Regions from separate parts of the Homo sapiens genome. Here region 2 is linked to region 1. Evidence: fine-mapped expression QTL. A gene starts in region 1. The other region holds a variant in brackets. All regions are shown on one strand. Distances are between the middles of the regions. Region 1 holds the start of USP36 (ubiquitin specific peptidase 36). Region 2 overlaps USP36 (ubiquitin specific peptidase 36).

The links. PIP is the estimated chance that this variant, and not a neighbour inherited with it, causes the effect.
Region 2: its variant is fine-mapped to the expression of USP36 in monocytes (Fairfax 2014, PIP 0.95).

What each region holds. Positions count from the first base shown.
Region 1 is chr17:78,837,958-78,843,320 of GRCh38, reverse strand. It overlaps USP36 (ubiquitin specific peptidase 36), which reads left to right and starts at 2,507. Exons shown (of 21, transcript NM_001385174.1): 1 at 2,507-2,585; 2 at 4,571-4,734. It overlaps LOC124904067 (a long non-coding RNA gene), which reads right to left and starts at 2,207. Exons shown (of 2, transcript XR_007065923.1): 1 at 1-2,207. RefSeq lists silencers at 2,020-2,119, 2,580-3,099 and enhancers at 2,240-2,429, 4,024-4,538, 4,539-5,053.
Region 2 is chr17:78,802,321-78,807,683 of GRCh38, reverse strand. USP36 (ubiquitin specific peptidase 36) reads left to right here. Exons shown (of 21, transcript NM_001385174.1): 14 at 48-725; 15 at 1,398-1,528; 16 at 3,706-4,299; 17 at 5,149-5,360. Among named protein-coding and RNA genes, the nearest start is that of CYTH1, 23 kb to the right of the region's middle. The variant TG/G (reference allele first, on the strand shown) is at 3,188.

The DNA.
Region 1 (5,363 bases):
CCCAAACCTGGGAACTCGGGTCTCCATGGACCGCACAGACACCTGAGAAAAGGTTTTGCATCAGAGGCTGATGGCAGAGGCTCTACCAGTCCAGCAAGTCACCTGACTGATGTGAAGGGTTCCCCTAGAGCAGGAGGGACATCTGGGCTGAAAACCCTCATGTGAAAAGGCCTGGGCCCCCCAGGCACTCGGCACCTATGAAATGCAACCCCAGCGGGTGGAAAAGCAAGTCCACGATTGCACTCCCCTGCCAGGCTAGGGAGAAATTCTGCTATTGCAGTTCAGGGGCAACACACCCACCCCCGCAGACCTGAGGGTGGCTGCAACTGTCAGCCACACCCAAAGAATGCAGGGCAGGCTCACTGTGGATAAATGTTTATGAAAGAACCACATGGAAATTGAAATATTTGAGATGAGACTGAATGATCTCTAAATCCTAAAAGAGAAAACTAGAGAAACATTAAAGATGAAAGAATAAAATATTCTGTTATAGAAAGCTGTAACCAAAACGGATCACATTAGAACTTACCTCAAGAAAAAGGTGCATTAACAGAATAGTTGTATTGTCACCCAAAAATTACCTGGTCCGCTCCCTGCCTGGGAGGTCAAGGTAAGATGGACTCAATTCCTCTCCTGGTTTCACAGCCTGTAGAAGATGGCTGAAGATTTGGGCTAATTTCGTGAGAGACCTACGTTGCATTTCTTTCTTTTTTTTTTTTTTAGACCAAGTATTGCTCTGTTGTCCAGGCTGCTGGAGTGCAATGGCACGATCTCAGCTCATTGCAACCTCCACCTCCCAGGTACAAGCGATTCTCCTGTCTCAGCCTCCCTAGTAGCTCGGATTACAGGCGTGCGCCACCATACCCAGCTAATTTTTGTATTTTTAGTAGAGACAGGTTTTCACCATGTTGGCCAGGCTGGTCTGGAATTCCTGACCTCAAGCGATCTGCCTGCCTCGGCCTCCCAAAGTGCTAGGATTACAGGCGTGAGCCACTGTGCCCTGCCTTTTTTTCTTTTCTTTTCTTTTCTTTTGAGACGGAGTCTCGCTCTGTCGCCCAGGCTGGAGTGCAGTGGCGACATCTCAGCTCGCTGCAACCTCCGCCTCCTAGGTTCAAGGGATTCTCGTGCCTCAGCCTCCTGAGTAGCTGGGATTACAGGCGCCCACCACCACACCCAGCTAATTTTTGTATGTTTAGTAGAGACGGGGTTTCACCATGTTGGCCATGCTGGTCTCGAACTCCTGACCTCAGGTGATCCGCCCACCTTGGCCTCCAAGTGTTGGGATTACAAGGGTGAGCCACCGCGCCCAGCCCAAGGATTCTTACAGATAGGGCATAGTCTCAGCATCAGACTAATATGGTTATCTTGTTTGCTTTTTTCAAAAAACACCAGCGCCCAGGTAATAAATACAAGGTGAATTTTGTTCCAAGTACATCTAGCCTCTCTCCCCATCTCCAGTCCCTGCTTTAGGATCCGTGGGGAGGGCATGGAAATTCGTTTTGGGTTGTTTACCTGTGACTTCACCCTACTCATCATTCCTACTTACATCAAAAAAGACACAGCAGATACGACTGTGTTTGCAAAGTTCTGCCTTTTGGATAAAGTAGTTTATGCCCATCCTGTGCTTCTCTGAGTTTCTGAGGTCAGGCCAGGAACCAACACTCTCAACCTGCCCAAGGGAATGGGGAGGAAGCCAGCGAAGTTGCCTCAGATCAAGAGGATTTTTAAAAATACTGCAAAAGAAATACGTGCTCACAAATACTCAGCTAAAACCTTCGCAGAGCTGTCAGAGGACAAAGCTTTTGGAGGGAGTGGGTGGAGCTAGAGATTGCACAGCCGCCACCAGCCTACAAAGGTCAAATCTCACACTCTCAGATCCCTAATTCCGAAGAGCCATTTCCTCGGCAGCCCCAGGCTTTGGCCGATCGCTCCCAGATCCCTCCCTCCCCAAACTGCAGGTGCTCCGCGTGTGGGAGTCACGGATGGCCCCAGAGCCCGGGACGTTAAGGCCGAGCGCCCGCGCCTCCGCTTCTCCACAGCCACCTGACGGCCAGGGGCAGGTGGGGGAGCCCAGCCTTCTCCCTGCCCGGGAGACAGCGCGGGAGGGCTGTTGCAGGGGTGGGCAAAGTCCCTCGAGTCCCCGTTCTGGGGCGGGGGCGCGCGCCACTGTCACACTTCAGGCGTCCGCCACGCCGCCAGGTGTGCTCGGCCGACCCGGAAGTAGCGGCACCTCTAGTGCGCTGCGGAGACGTCACCCTGCCGCGGCACAGGGGCGGGAGCGCCTGTGGCTCTGCGCACTTGCGTCATCACGTAGGCTGGCGGGGTCCCGTGATGGGGAGGTGACGTAGGCGACACGGAAGCGGCGGTGGGCGGGGACAGGGAGTTAGCGGAATCTAGCCCCGCCTCTTAAAGCCTCCCAACCCTTTCGGAGTTAGCGCAGCGCGAACGCTGGGTGCGGCGCCTTTAAGCGTCGCGGTGACACGTGTGTGAGGCGCCGGAGGCCCGGATGGTGCGCGTGCTGGGCCGCGGGCCGAAGGAGTCGCCAGGGCTGCGTAGGCTTGTGGCGCGCCCGCGGAGAGGCCGGGGTAGGCTGGGGTCGGGTCGGGGCGGTGCGCAGGCCTGGGGACGAGACCGGGGCGGGGGGTTCCGCGAGGCCTGGGGCGCGGGAAGGGCTGGCGGGCGCAGCCGGGACGCTCAGGGAGAACGTGGGCGCGGGTCCGCGCAGGGCTTCGGCCGTCCCCGAGGAGGACCCGGGATGCTCCGCCCGCTCGCGAGCTCGCTTCTCCAGAGCCCGGGTATTCCCGAGGAGGGTCCGGGGCCGGGCTGTCCTCGCCGGTCTCCGCCGTCCCCCGGGCTCCGGGCCGGTGATGGGGGTCGCCGGGGCCCGCTGTCTGTGCAGGATTCAGGTCAACTTCGGAGAGGTTGAAGTCGGAATCAGGGCGAGGGCGTCGCGTGCGGCCGCAGAGCTCAGCGGGGCGGGTGCGGCCCCGGGGCGGGCACCTTCCTCGTGGTTGCGGAGGAGGCCATGGAGCCCGGGGCGGGGTGCGGTTCCGATGCTGCTGCTTCTGGCGGGTGGCGTGGGGGTCCTGGGCCTGGGGCTGGAGTGGCGGCCGCCAAACCCAGACACACGAGAGGGGAGACTCCGCGCGCCCCCGTTTACGTAACGCTCGCCACGGAGCCATGCTCGGGGAGAGGTGCTCGGGTCGCTGTGTCCGCGGCCGGGCTCGGGGCAGGCGCTGCGGAGTCGCCCGGGAGGCCCCTGGAGCGCGGCGCTGGGCCCCGGGAGGCCGCTGCTTCCGTGGGCTCCTCTCCCCAGCACGTGGTTGACCCTGCGAGCGTCCGTTGCAGTTCATCCTGGAAAAGTGACTTTAGAAGGAGGAGGGAGCGGGAATGAGCCTAAATGGTGCTGGCTGGGGTTCGCGCAGGTGGAAATGTGGATGAGGCCTGTGCTGTCCTTGGACAAGAGAGAGCATCCTTCCTGAGTTGGGTAGAGTGTGGATGGTGTGTGCGTCGGAGGGATTGCTAGTGATTACAGGAACACTTGTCTCGGGCTCCTACACGTCAGAGAGCGAGCGAGCGTTGTTTAGGTTATTGCTTAATGTTTTAGGTGGAATTGGTGAAGTAGAGATTGACCTGTCCCACTTGAAAAATTGTGTTCAAAATCTCTGCATCTACATTAAGGAGTGGGTTAAGTTCAAAGTTACTTATCTCGAGTGAAACTGGGTTACATCTCCCAAGGTTCGTTTATCCCCTCCCTAAGTGGTTCTCAAGCGTTGGTTGTGCATGACAGAGTTCTCACCTTCCAGGGTAGATGTGAGTCCTAACCGAAAGCAGTGATATTGTGGGGAGTTTTTAATACGACTGGATGTCTTCACTTTGTAGATGGCTTTTATTCTGAGATCATTTCCTTACACATTTTTCGGGAGTTGGTATGCTTTTATTTATGGATGAAGTCATAGGTCTGAGATTTGCTGTAGAATTACCTGGGGATGGGAAGTGACTCAGGATGGGTCAGATGTAGTTACTGAGGCTGAATAAGGGGGGCTCATGTGCTCCCTGTGCGGTTCTCCATCTGTGTGTTTGAATGTTTTCACTGTAAACTGTTTTTACGAACCTTAATTTTATGTAATCATAGTGATCGTAGATGGTAATGAAAGAGAAAATCCACACTTAGCAAAGCAAAATTTTGGCAACTCCTATTACTCCCTGAGGTTTGTTGTTGTTGTTATTGAAGTTTTACTGGTTCATTAAATCCAAAACTTGGGGATTTATTACCTCTTACTCTTTGGAAATAAGATTAGACTGGAGCTGACTGGCAGGTGTTGGGGAGGTTTTCCTTCTCTGGGCTTGTCTGGGGTCAAGGTTAAGGTGTTCATATCGTGTGCATTACAACAACTGGTGATGAGGTAGTACGGTCCACCCGCCTCATCCTGAGTGCACGCGTGGATGCTCCTTGGACGGCTTTTTCGTGGTAGAGGGTTCCCGGTGCGCGCCGCATCCCTGGGAAGTAGCTGAAGAGAAGGCACAGGAAGAGTCGCCTCCACTGATGGTCTCCCTGTCCCTCCCACAGGCTCTGACGCCCGCTCTGCGGCTTCGGTGTTTGAACAGGCCACAGTCCAGGAGCGCTTACATTCAGGAGCTCCGCGTAGCACCTGCCCAACCAAACTCAGCCCTCCGTTAAGATCCTGGTTCCATGCCGCAGTAGGACAGCAGGCCCAAGTCTGCACATCCCAGGTGAGTCTGCGAGGCTTCTGTGTATTTTTTGATTCCGTTGAATTGTCTGCATGTGACGCAGCAGTGATTGTTCAGTTGGTGAGAAGTCTTTGATAATTCTCATGAGAAAAGGCTCTTTTATTTTCTCAAATCAGACAACTTATAATGCTTTTTTTTAAATAAGCTTCTGAAATTTCTTTACAGAAGTTTTTTGTTTTTTGTTTTTTTTTTTTTTTGAGACCAAGTCTTGCTCTGTTGCCCAGGCTGGAGTGCAGTGGCGCGATCTCGGCTCACTCCAACCTCTGCCTCCCGTGTTCAAGCAATTCTCTGCCTCAGCCTCCTGCGTAGCTGGGATTACAGGCGCCTGCCACCATGCCTGGCTAGTTTTTTTGTATTTTTAGTAGAGAAACATCTTCGCCAGGCTGGTCTTGAATTCCTGACCTCCTGATCCACCCGTCTCGGCCTCCCAAGTGCTGGGATTACAGGCGTGAGCCACGATTTTTTTTGTTTTAAAGATGGGGTCTCACGATGTTGCCCAGGCTGGACTGCACTGGCTATTCACAGGCGTAATCATAGCTCACTGCAGCCTCAGGCTCCTGCCCTCAAGTTATCCTCCCACCTCAGCCTCCCAAGCATCTGGGACGACAGGC
Region 2 (5,363 bases), 36 kb after region 1:
GAGACTTCTCGCTTCCTCAGTTGTGTTTTCTGCTTTGGTCTCCTTAGCGACAAGACTCTGGGACGATGAAGAAGCCGCACACCACTGAAGAGATTGGTGTGCCCATATCCAGGAATGGCTCCACCCTGGGCCTGAAGTCCCAGAACGGCTGCATTCCTCCAAAGCTGCCCTCGGGGTCCCCTTCCCCCAAACTCTCCCAGACACCCACACACATGCCAACCATCCTAGACGACCCTGGAAAGAAGGTGAAGAAGCCAGCTCCTCCACAGCACTTTTCCCCCAGAACTGCTCAGGGGCTGCCTGGGACCAGCAACTCGAATAGCAGCAGATCTGGGAGCCAAAGGCAGGGCTCCTGGGACAGCAGGGATGTTGTCCTCTCTACCTCACCTAAGCTCCTGGCTACAGCCACTGCCAACGGGCATGGGCTGAAGGGGAACGACGAGAGCGCTGGCCTCGACAGGAGGGGCTCCAGCAGCTCCAGCCCAGAGCACTCGGCCAGCAGCGACTCCACCAAGGCCCCCCAGACCCCCAGGAGTGGAGCGGCCCATCTCTGCGATTCTCAGGAAACGAACTGTTCCACCGCTGGCCACTCCAAAACGCCGCCAAGTGGAGCAGATTCTAAGACGGTGAAGCTGAAGTCCCCTGTCCTGAGCAACACCACCACTGAGCCTGCAAGCACCATGTCTCCTCCACCAGCCAAAAAACTGGCCCTTTCTGCCAAGAAGGTGGGTGTGTGGGGGTCTCGCCGCTGCTGTGTATCAGGAGAGCTCCAAGAGTTGCTTGGTTGTGGTTTGAAGGGAGTGAGAACATTGTCCGGGGGCTTTGGCCTCCCTCATGTTAGAGGAACAAAGTGTCTTTTAGTCGTTCCCAGCCATTTGCAATTAAAGAACGGCTATCTTGGGGTGAAGGCAGTATGGGGTGTTGAGAGAGCCCTGATCTGGTGATGCTCATGTGACTCATGGAGGTTTGGGCAAGGTAGCAGTTCCCTGTTTTCACAGTAGGTGGAAGATCCTGACTGAACCCGAGGGAGGGTGGGCCCCACCAGCACGTGTCCCTAGCAGGGGTGGGGCGGGCAGGAAGCGCAGAGCCCCAGTGGGGTGCCCGGCACCTCTGCAGCAGGAAGCTTGGGCAGCCACGGCACGTGGATGTGATTGTTGTGCTGAGATTTTTGTTTAAATTTTCTTCCTTTTTTTTGTTTCTAACCAAAAATACTTTTCTGGTTCTTCTTCTACCATTCCCCTGCCCCTCACCTCCCCTTTTTGTCTTCTTCTGTCTCCTCATCTTTTTTTCTGGGCTCTTTTGTTTTTATTTTCATTTTTTGTTACTTTTGTTTTCCCTCTTCACTCACGGAAACCTTTTTTAGACCACCAAGTTTTTATTTATGTCGATAACTGCAGGCCAGCACCCTGTGGAGGGCGACCGGCAATGACCTCCGTCCACCTCCCCCCTCACCATCCTCCGACCTCACCCACCCCATGAAAACCTCTCACCCCGTCGTTGCCTCCACTTGGCCCGTCCATAGAGCCAGGTAAGCTTTGGGCCGGGATCTTCTGGGTGCCAACTGGTTCTCCCTGTGGTTGCGTGTGCTTGGCTGGTGAGGAGTTGGACGAATCGCCAACCTCACAGGACAGACAAAGCATTGGGGCAGCCAGGAGGTACAGGGGGGCGTCACTGACCAAGATCCCCCTCTTCTGTGTTCCCCTGTGGTAAAGGAGCTTTGGGTGGTGAAGGCAGTTCGGCCTCTGCAGTCCTGATGTCTTAGTTCTGTCTTTGTTGGTGGTCTGTCTGCGACATCCTTGTGGTGATGTGGTGTGCTGGGGACTGACCTGTCCTGTATCCCTACCAGCCCCATGACAGTACTTCCCAGTCGAAGAGAAAGGCGAAGTGAGGCCTTGGCGAGAGGCTTGAGTGAGCTCGGAGTCCCGAGCGTTTTTTGTGGGACGTCTTGCCTGCTAGCGTCATGCAGGTTAAGAACTGTCTCAGGGCTCTCGGGTTCCTCTGCAGACACCTGCCAGAGATGCAGCCCCTTCCCTGTGCATGTGGGCCCTGGTCCGCAGGGGCTGCCTGCGTCTCTTAGGTGCCTCGAGTGGCAGGAAGTTGAGAGTAACTGGTAAATGGCTGTCTGGAAGCCGCTGGGAGTGGGGACGGAAGCAGTGAAAGATGGGGTGAGTCATGAGGCGGCCTGCGGGGACTGTACTGGTGGCCTCGGCGCTGGGTTCTAGTTCTAGAATCTCCAGTGCTACATGAGGGCGAGGTATGACTGTGCGTCGCCCACAGCCTCTGCCTTACTCTCCTCTCACATATACACACACAAGCACACCTCTGCCCTATACCTAGCATAAGATTTGTGTACGTGGGAGGGCCTTAAGTGTTTGGGTGTTTTTCGTTTCTTGCCTTATAAGCTTTTTTGGAAAAGATTCCAGAAGACACTTAGAGTAATCAAACATCGTGCAGCTGGCATGGCCCTTATAGTTTGTTTAGATGATGACGGGGGTCCTGTTTTCTGCAGGAACCCTGGGAGGTGGGCTTTGTGGTCCCAGCTCATTGACAAATGAGAACATGGTGGTTCAGAGTGGGAAGTTAATTTTCCTAGAGACACATAGCTGGCAAGAGGGAGCCTCACTGGGTTCGGCACTAGATCCTGTCCCGGACACGCCTTGCTCATGATTCTGCTCTACGCATCTGTGTCCCGGTTTCAGCGTCCTAATGACGGTAATGTGGAGGTGTCATTAGGCCAGCTCAACACTTGCTTTCCTTATGAGGCTCATTTCCTGCCCGGGAACACCCTGAGACTTTCGGAGGTTGGAAAATAAATCCTCACGGGATCTTTTTTTTCCTTACCATTTATTGTTTCGTGAAGGTTTCCTCCCTTAACACATTTGTATTAAAGATGTTTTTACATTAGAGCTCGCAAAAATACTTGAATTGCTTGGTGACAAGAAACTAAGGCATGGAACAATTCTTATTAACTTTGCCTTTTAAAAAAAAAAAAATTTTTTTTTTGACTTTTAAAATCACGTGTTGGCTTGCTTTTTTTTTTTTTTTTTTTTTTTTTTTTAAATCTCAGGGATCAGTTATTTTAAGTTCCAGGGTACATGTGCAGGATGTAAAGGTTTGTTACAGAGGTGCCATGGTGGTTTGCTGCACCTATCAACCCACCACCTAGGTAACTTTGTTTTTTTTTTTT[TG/G]TTTTTGTTTTTGTTTTTTTGGTTTTTTTTTTTTTTGAGACGGAGTCTTGCTTTGTCGCCCAGGCTGGAGTGCAGTGGCGCGATTCGGCTCACTGCAACCTCCACCTCCCAGGTTCAAGCGATTCTCCTGCCTCAGTCTCCTGACTAGCTGAGATTACAGGCGTGTGCCACCACGCCCGGCTAATTTTGTATTTTTAGTAGAGATGGGGTTTCACCATGTTGGCTAGGCTGGTCTCAAACTTCTGACCTCAGGTGATCCAGCCACCTTGGCTTCCCAAAGTGCTGGAATTATAGGCATGAGCCACTGTACCTGGCCAACTTTGCATTTAAATAGATGTTGAATTAATTGTTAGCTTTCTTTCAAACATACATGTAACTTAATGTGTATCTGAAAACTACAGGGTAAAAGCCTTTTCAGATTTTTAGGTGAAAGGGAGGGGAGTGAGGGTAGACAGAAGGAACAGCTCTGCTGGGTCTTTCAGAACATCCTCTCCCTGTTTCCTGGCTGTCCCCACAGGGCTGTGTCACCTGCTCCCCAATCATCCAGCCGCCTGCAACCCCCCTTCAGCCCCCACCCCACATTGCTGTCCAGTACCCCCAAGCCCCCAGGGACGTCAGAACCACGGAGCTGCTCCTCCATCTCGACGGCGCTGCCTCAGGTCAACGAGGACCTTGTGTCTCTTCCACACCAGTTGCCAGAGGCCAGTGAGCCCCCCCAGAGCCCCTCTGAGAAGAGGAAAAAGACCTTTGTGGGAGAGCCGCAGAGGCTGGGCTCAGAGACGCGCCTCCCACAGCACATCAGGGAGGCCACTGCGGCTCCCCACGGGAAGAGGAAGAGGAAGAAGAAGAAGCGCCCGGAGGACACAGCTGCCAGCGCCCTGCAGGAGGGGCAGACACAGAGACAGCCTGGGAGCCCCATGTACAGGAGGGAGGGCCAGGCACAGCTGCCCGCTGTCAGACGGCAGGAAGATGGCACACAGCCACAGGTGAATGGCCAGCAGGTGGGATGTGTTACGGACGGCCACCACGCGAGCAGCAGGAAGCGGAGGAGGAAAGGAGCAGAAGGTCTTGGTGAAGAAGGCGGCCTGCACCAGGACCCACTTCGGCACAGGTAAGGGCAGGAGCAAAGTGGCATCTGTCTACCTCTGACGAGAAACAAAGCAAAACCACAGAATCTACCCCCAAGTAGGTATGGTCTGGAAACGTAGTCTGCTTGCGTGGTTTTCTAAAATGTGGATTTGTGATCAGATGTCTCCTCTGGCTGGGTGTGGTGGCTCACACCTGTAATCCTAGCACTTTGGGAGGCTGAGGCGGGTGGATCACTTCAACCCAGGAGTTTGAGACCAGCCTAGGCAATATGGAAAAGCCCTTTCTCTACCAAAAACAAAAATTGGTTGGGCATGGTGGCATGCACCTATAGTCCCAGCTACTCAGGAGGCTGAGGTGGGAGGATGGTTTGAGCCCAGGAGGTGGAGGTTGCAGTGAGCTGAGATCGCGTCACTGCACTACAGCCTGGGTGACAGCTAAACCCTGTCTAAAAAAAAAGAAAAAAGAAAAAATATCTCCTCTGATAAATACCAGTGGATTGATCCTTGAAGCGACAGTGGTGTGGACAGTAGTGTCCATCATTGTATGTGCAGGGCCGTTCAAGGATGCTGGATCAGGTGTCCCGGGCCAGGCCAGGATCTGCCGTTTCATCAGGTCACAGTAGCCTGCACATTGGCGTCAACAGGCTTGGCTCAGTTAGGATGGGAAACGCGACTGGTTTTCCCTCTACTGTCTCCGTGGCTGCGTGTGGAGCGTCCGCTAATGCGTGTGGGGGGAAGAATGTTGCAGGGACCTGCGTGCACTGGGTCACAGCTGGGGTGGCACCTTCTCCATGTTGCAGGCGGGTGTCTGTGCGCTCCTGCTCCCCTTCCAATTTGCTCAGAGCTGACTGCTGCCTCTCACTTCCAAGCAGCTGCTCTCCCATGGGTGATGGTGATCCAGAGGCCATGGAAGAGTCTCCAAGGAAAAAGAAAAAGAAAAAAAGAAAGCAGGAGACACAGCGGGCAGTAGAAGAGGATGGGCATCTCAAATGCCCAAGGAGTGCCAAGCCCCAAGATGCTGTTGTCCCCGAGTCCAGCAGCTGCGCACCATCCGCGAATGGCTGGTGTCCTGGGGACCGCATGGGTA